Linked DNA regions of Homo sapiens. Changing the gene in region 1 together with any one later gene gives a genetic interaction. Each region holds a gene or a part of one and is shown on either strand. Other genes may lie near its edges.

Region 1 (3,745 bases):
GCTTCGGTCCCGCTCCCCAGGAGCCCCGCCCGCCCGCGATCTTTCCCCGGCCCCGCCCCGCTCCCCGCCCGGCCCTCACCTGAGCTGCGCGGAGCGCGCGTAGCCCTGGAAGTAGCGGAGGCGCGCGAACAGGTAGACCAGGCCGCACAGGGCCGCCGCCCCTGCGAGAGGTACGCACGGGCCTGGTGAGCGCCCTGCGCGGGTCCCGGGGGTCCAGCGCGTGCGCCCCTGCCCCACACCCCGACCTTCATGAAAGAAGATGCCGGCGACCCAGAGCGTGGCGAGGAACAGCGGGAAGTACTCGCTGCAGTTCACCCTGCGGTGGGCGGGTGGGATGAGCGCGCCGGCCGGGATGGTCCTGCGACCCGGACCCGCCTGGGGCTCGCTCCCCGCCCCGCGCCCTCCCGCCGCGCCTCACTGGGCTCGGTAGACGCGCTCGAACTCGGGTGGGCCGGTGGTGAGCGGCGGCGACACGCGGAAGGCCCTGCGCGCCGAGATCACCTGCAGGGAGAAGTAGGCTGGGGGAGGAGGGGGAGCGGGAGTCAGGTCTGGACACCCGAAGCCCCAGAGATGGGAGTGGGAGGGATCCTGCAATCTGGCCCTTCACTTGGCCGTGTCCTCTCCTCCCTAAGGCGGAACCCCGCCCCCTCCCCGCCCGAGGAGACCTCTCGTCTCACCCATCCCTGGCCTGCCCTGTGTCCCTGACATTCAGCGAGGAGGGCAGGGCTGAAGCCTGGGGCGCAGAGAGGCCCTGTCCCAACCTGTGAGTGTATGGGGGAGGGTGAGTGATTCAGGCACAGGGACACCTGCTCCGCGAGAGAGACCACTTGAGTCCTTGTTTCTGAATCATTTCACTCTCAAAACACAGGCAAATGCAGCTTTCAGGTCCCTGGCCAGGAAGTGCCTCGGGAGTCTGAGGGCAGAGCTGGCTGCATCCTCCCAGGTGCAAGGAAGCACACTCCCTGTAGCTAACAGTCCCTGGTCACCCACCTACCAGCGCCCACCAGCAGGGCCCTCTGACCCTGCCTCAGGCCGGGATCACTAAAGCCTGCGTCCCTGTGCCTCCAAACCTCAGTTTCTCTGTTCCTGCATTCCGGTCCCAGGCCTAAATCTGACAGACACCTTCTCTCCTGCTCCCAGGAGGTTGCAGCTGGGACTCTCCTAGCCTAACCCCAGGACCCCAGGGCTGGGGTAGTTGCAGAGGGTGGGCTGGCCCTAAAGTTTCTCTGTGGGCAGGAGCCCTTCTCTTGGTCAGGTGAGGCCAGGCCAGACCACACACAGACCAGTGCTGGCTGTGCGCTCCCTCCCCAGACCTCCCGTCGGACCATCTCCCCCTGAGTCCTGCAGCCCTGGCACCTTTGGTTCTGGGCCCTCTGCAGATGGGTGTCACAGGGTGGCCATCCAGCTCAGTGCAGGAGCAGCTGGAGGTCAGGCTGGCCTGTCTGTTCAGCCCCTTCAGAGCCCCCTCCCCAGGCTGTGCCTTATCCTAGCCCACACACTGTGGAGTAGTGGTGTCTCTTAGGTGGCAAGGATATCTGGCCAAGGAATGTGTCCTTTAGGGCCAGTCTGAGAAAGGCATTAAGCAGGCTCTTTTTAGGGGGCTGGAGGAAGGAGTCCCACCTCTACCCTGCTCCACGTGGTCCCAGTATGGAGGTGCCTTTGAAGCAGAGCCAGGGAATGGGGGCCGCTTGCTGGGACGCCCAGAGAGGGGACAGCTGGAAAGAGCAGAGATCAGCTTCCCCAAGCCCATGGCTATCCTACCATTTGTCCTGGCACCCTTGCCACCCCCAAGTCCTACAGCTCTCACAGCCAGGTGCCCCCCAGTTCCCTGAAAGTCCCCACCCTCTTCCAGCTTGGGCCTGGGCTGGAGTCCCCACCTCTGCCCTCCACCTGGGCCTAGGGGGCAGAGGGCAAGCTGTAGGGATCTAAGGCCCACCCTCTTCCTAGATAGGAACCAGCCCACCTTGCAGCAGGACTCCCAGGAGGGTGACAGCAGCCAGTAGAGCTACCTCGTCCTTCATGGTACCGTCGGTGTGGTGGCACGGGCTGTGTGTGAAGGCGAGCTGGGGAACGCTTAGCCCCGTCTGCTGCTCAGAGGACGGCCCAGGAGAGGAAGAGCAGCCTCGGTGCTCTCCCCGCCCCATCTCAGTGGAGGGGGTGCACGGGGGTGTGACCATACCACACAGAGCCAGGGAGCCAGGCCAAGCCAGCAGGGAGGAAACCAAAGTCTGGGCAGGGGAGAGCAGCTAGCTGGAGACCGCCTCACCACTTCCTGCTTGTTCGTGCCCCTTCCTTGCCTAGTCCCGCGTGGCAGAGCCCAAGCTGTCCATCTGGGTCAGCTCCAGCTGTGGGTGTGCCCCCTGCTGCACCACCCCACTTTCTCCAGGGCCTTGCAGACCCCCACATCATGCTGGAGCCAGCCCCAGGCTCCCGGCTAACTCCTCCACCCACCTTATCTGTTCCCTGTCCCCATCCAGGCTGTTCCTGGCAACCCCTGCCAAACCCTCCTCTGCGGAAGCCCTTCCCAGTGCCTTTGGCTTCAGAATGGAGTCCCAGCGCCCCCCCAGCCACACTGGGCCCCACAAGCTCTTTCTCCTTCAGGAAACCTCATGCCTGCCAGCCTTAGTCGTTGTAGGGGTTCCATGCACAAGGGCCACCCTGCCAGGAGGAAACCTGTCCAAGGCCCCCTGGGTGGCGGGAGGGTCAGCCCTTGTGGGCCATCCCTCTCCCAGGCCTCTCTTGGGCCTCCCACAACAGTCACCTGCTGTGTCTTTCTGCCCCGCAGCCCTCTTGCCTCAAGGTAACAACCCTCCACCACCTTCCTAGACGGCTGCCCTCCCCACACTCAGGCCCTGTGGTCTGGACAGTGCTGACTCCTGCCCCTTCCAGGCCTGTGAGATGGACACTGAGCCAAGGCTGACTCAAGATGGTGAGATGTAGTTCTGGAAACTTCCTTAGGACTTTGGGACAGGAAACTCAGAGTGGGGAGGGGGACTACGGCGGGCCACCCTGAGGACAGAGCCCACGCAGGGCCAGGTGGAGAGGAAAGGTGGCACCCGAGGACTCCTGCCTGGAGTTCTGGGTGTCTCCCTCGCCCCGCCTGGAGCGCCCCCGGCCGCCCCCCTCGCCCTGCCTGGAGTGCCCCTGGCCGCCAGCCTTCCCAGTTGGGCCTAACGGTCACTTCCTCTTTTGGCTTGAGTGGGTTTGCGGTGGCTTTTGGTCAGAAGTGGCAAAGTCCAGACTGACCCAGAAGCACGGGCAGGAGCTGGGGGAGGCCACAGGCCGTGCTGCAGGGGTCGGGCCGCATGGTTCTGCCCTCGCACCTGGTCCTTCCTTGCTGCCCCAAGCTCAGCTCCAGCCTGAGGCTCGGAGCCTGTTGGGCTCTCTCAGAATCCCTTCTTCCTCCTCTGGGTATCGCCCCTGCCCCCGGAAACCAGATATGCCCCAGCTGGGGGCTCTGTGAGCTCCTCCAGGGCAGGGGCCAGGGCTCAGGCCCGGCCCCTGCTTTAGACCAAGCTGTGACAGTCATCTTGGGGCTCAGTGATGGAGGACTGCCTCCTAGATCCCGGACACAGATGTAGTGCCAGGGAGCGATGGTGGCCGCGTCCTCAGACTCTGCCCACTCAGCCTCCTTCCTCCCTGAAACCTGCCCCACAGGGCCTGCCTGAAGGGTGGGATGCAGCCCACCACGCAGGGGTTGACGCTGGTGCCAGTGGGCTGTGCCCAGGGTGTCTGTGTGCACCAC
Region 2 (3,645 bases), on another chromosome or scaffold:
TCCCTGGTGACATTTATTGACCCTGGCCCTCAACAGTCCTCTGCCCGCCTGCTCAGTTATTGCTTGGGGCCCAGAATGAATCTCTGCTGGTAAGAAGGAGGGGGTGGTGCCGAGGGCACACAGAAGGCTGACACCCCTGAGCTCCTTGGCCACTAGCAAAGACACTTACACAGACCCACGGGTGCTTGAGAGCCTGGTCAGCCGTGATGCGCTTTGCTGGGTTTATGGTCAGCATCTGGTTGATCAAGTTCTTGGCTTCAGGAGTTACCGTGTCCCATTCTGGTGATGGGAACTAAGGAGCAGGAATAGGGAGAAGAATGTGGTATTGGTGAGCTTCATACCCTGCAACACTGGTTCTGTCTTCAACTCAACTCCTGTAATTGGGATACTCTGTGGTACCTAAAGCTGTGACTGGCAGAGTTGGAGAAGCCCTGCGGCTATTCCAGAACCTGTGTCAACTTAAAGACTTGGAAAGACAGACAGAACAGTCATGTTTAGAATGCCAGAACATCAGATTAGAGCGGGAAGGGGACTCCAACATTCTCTGGTTTAAGCCCAGCTCTATACTTAGGAGGGAACAGAGGCTCAGCAATGTGTCCAAGGTGCCACTGCAGTGGAGGGAGTCTCCAGGCCTTTTGTCCCTGTGTTACACAGCACACCAATGAGGCCGCTCCATTCTTTGCAAGTAAAGATCAAAGGACTTCAGTGGACTCCTCAATTTTAGTTATGAAGAAGGCTGTGCAAAAGAAAGTTGCTCCCTGGGACATAGAGTGGCAAGAATTGGGCCCTGGATGCCCATTCCTGGGTCCTCAAAGTCCCCTGACACCCCCGTATCACGTGACACACTAAACAAGCCTGCTCCCTTGGACAGAGCCCGAGGAGCAAGGACATCTGCCCTTCCTGGCCTGGCTGCCCGGCTCTCTGGTCCTTACATCATAGGCTCCAGCCTTGATCTGCTGATACAGCTTGTGCTGATCCTCATCCCAGAAGGGAGGATAGCCCACCAGGAGGATATACAGGATGACCCCTACGAGACAGAACACACAGGTCATGGGGGTCAGTCGCCTACTTCCCTGAGGAACCAAGAAAAACCATGCAGGGCTCAGAGCCACCTAGAAAGGCAGGGGCCATACCAGAGTCAGAAGTGGATGCCAGCCGATAATGCTATGCTACCAGCCCCTCCTGCTATGCCTCACACTTCACGTCACCAAGTCACACCAGGGATTTCTTTAGGCACAACCCATCCTCTAAGGCGTGGGCAAATCCCTCTCCAAGAAGGATACAATGTCATCCCAGAAGTACGCAGGGAGGAGGGTGTGATGGGAACAGCCATCCCAGGGGCAAACACCATAATTTCACATACACCAGGCACGTGTGTGACCTGCAAGGAATAGCGATGCCTCTTTCTTGCCATCATCGGAAGTTGAGGGCCCTTAACAGCGAAAAGCTGAGAGCGTGGAATGGGCTTACCGCAGGCCCAGATATCCACAGGTTTTCCATAGGGATCTTTCCTCAAGACCTCAGGGGACAAGTAACCTGGGGTGCCAGCAAAACCTGTAGCAAAAGAGAGGGCAGAGGCATACTGAACCCACTTTCTCTCTCGTTAAATCCACACCAGCCATTTCCCCCAAGTCCCATCTTATTCCTGCTGCTTTTGCTACATAAACTCTCAGCACATGGGCAGCAAGAGCTGACAGGCTGGGCTTCTTGTAGCGCCTGGAATCTGAACCAGACGGCAAAGCCGTATGCCTACCAGGAACTCCAGCTCCTTCCCACAGGCAGCAAGAAAGCAGTGCTGACAACAGCTAGACTTACTGTACTGAGTCGCGTACGGCCAAGAGAGATCTCGGAGGCCAGGACCATTAAGGGTCTGGCTTCTAGTTCTAATAGAGGAAGGCAGATCAGGAAGAGGAGGAAGGGCGGGGGCTGCATTCCGGGAAGACAGGATCACCCTTACCAAACCAAGCCTGCTGCTCTCCCTGTACTTCGATGGCTAGGCCAAAATCAGCCAGCTTGACGGCGGCACCCTTGCATTTACTCGCCAGCAGCAGGTTCTCAGGCTGCAGAAGAAACACAGAGAACCTTGTGAGCACCCACCCTGCAGCCCAGAGGAAGCCTAGTTTGGGCCTACGCAGTACCACTATCTGGCACCAGGTGGCGCCAACACTTCATGAGCAGAGGCACGGAGGGGAGCCTGGGTAGTACCTTCAGGTCCCTGTGGACGATGTCATGCTGGTGGATGTGGTTAACACTCTCCAGAATCTGATGTATACAGTGGCTAAAAAAGCAGAAGGAAAAGAAATGTTAGCGCAGGGTTAAACCACCTCATCCACATCCACAACCACATGCTGCAGACTAAGGCATGTGACAAGGGGCCACGGATTCACAGAGAATCACTTAACGGCCACTGGAACCTTAGACTCTGCACATCATCTTGTTCAACCTATTTAAAGAAAGAGGAAACCGAGGCCCAGGCAGATGCAATGGTTTTTCTAGGATCACCGCTAGAACGGGTTCCTCTCACCCCCTTTTGACTGGAAAGGTCTAACACAACCAACTCATTTCCAAGAGATCAGGAGACAGCCCAGAATCCTGAGGAAGAAGAGAGCATCCAATCCCTTCCTTCTTTCTCTTTCTCCATACAGTAACTTTGTTCTTGGAGAAGAAGCTTGTGCTGGCAACTTAGGAAGGAGAGTCCAACTAAACAACCTAAGCTACTTTGGCGGTGGGTGCACTCATTCATTTCCCTAAATGTTTATTGAGTGCCTAGGATAATGAAGATGGACAAGACCCAATAGCTGCCCTGAGGTCTGGCATCCAGTAAGGCAGCTAAAACAAGTACAAAGATACCTTTAAGAAACAATGTACTTAAGAGCTTCCAAACAGGGCATTTAAGGAGCACTTCTGATGATTTTGCGTAGAGAAAAAAACCCAAAGTTATTTTATTATTTTATTTTTGAGACAGGGTCTCACTCTGTTGCCTGGGTTAGAGTGCAATGTCGTGAACACAGCTCACCGCAGCCTTGACCTCCTGGGCTCAAGCAATCCTCCCACTTCAGCCTCCCCAGTAGCTGGGACCACAAGCATGAGCCACCGTGCCCAGCTAATTTTTGTATTTTTTTGTGGAGACAAGGTCTCACCATGTTGCCCAGGCTGGTCTTGAACTCCTGAGCTCAAGTGATCCACCCACCTTGGCCTCTCAGTGTTGGGATTACAGGCGTGAGCCACTGCGCCCAGCCACAGTCACACACGTAAATCAGACTGTCCACATAGCAAACCATCCTGCCATCCCTGTCATCAAACTCCTGACAGGGAGCGGGGGCAGTCTAGAGCAGTGGTTTTCAACTGGGAATGAATTTGCCGCCCGCCCCCCCCCACCGCAGGGGACATTTGGCAATGCCTAGAGAAATTTCTGGTTGTCACAACTGGAGGAGGGGTGCTCCCAGCATTTGGTGGGCAGAGGCCAAGGATGCTTCTAAATGTCTGCCACAATGCACAGGAGAGGCCTCACAACAAGGAAGTACCTGGCCTAAAACGTTAGTAGCACCAAGGCTGAGGAACTTGGCCTAGAATATAGACCCCCGTCATCAGGCACTATCTGGTATATTAAGCACATCTGCAGAGCATCCCAGTGTATGGGGCTGG

Evidence for each region.
Region 2: changes in LTC4S (region 1) and CAMK2G together harm fitness more than expected from each alone (negative genetic interaction), as found in Homo sapiens cells (one large-scale study listed by BioGRID).

Annotation. Positions count from the first base shown.
Region 1 is NC_000005.10:179,792,357-179,796,101, reverse strand, and holds the start of LTC4S (leukotriene C4 synthase), read right to left. Parts: upstream 2,117-3,745; 5' UTR 2,022-2,116; coding exon 1,964-2,021; intron 519-1,963; coding exon 419-518; intron 317-418; coding exon 246-316; intron 162-245; coding exon 80-161; intron 1-79.
Region 2 is NC_000010.11:73,847,056-73,850,700, forward strand, and holds part of CAMK2G (calcium/calmodulin-dependent protein kinase type II subunit gamma), read right to left. Parts: intron 2,279-3,645; coding exon 2,206-2,278; intron 2,061-2,205; coding exon 1,958-2,060; intron 1,555-1,957; coding exon 1,471-1,554; intron 1,028-1,470; coding exon 933-1,027; intron 737-932; exon of another isoform or gene 293-736; coding exon 170-292; intron 1-169.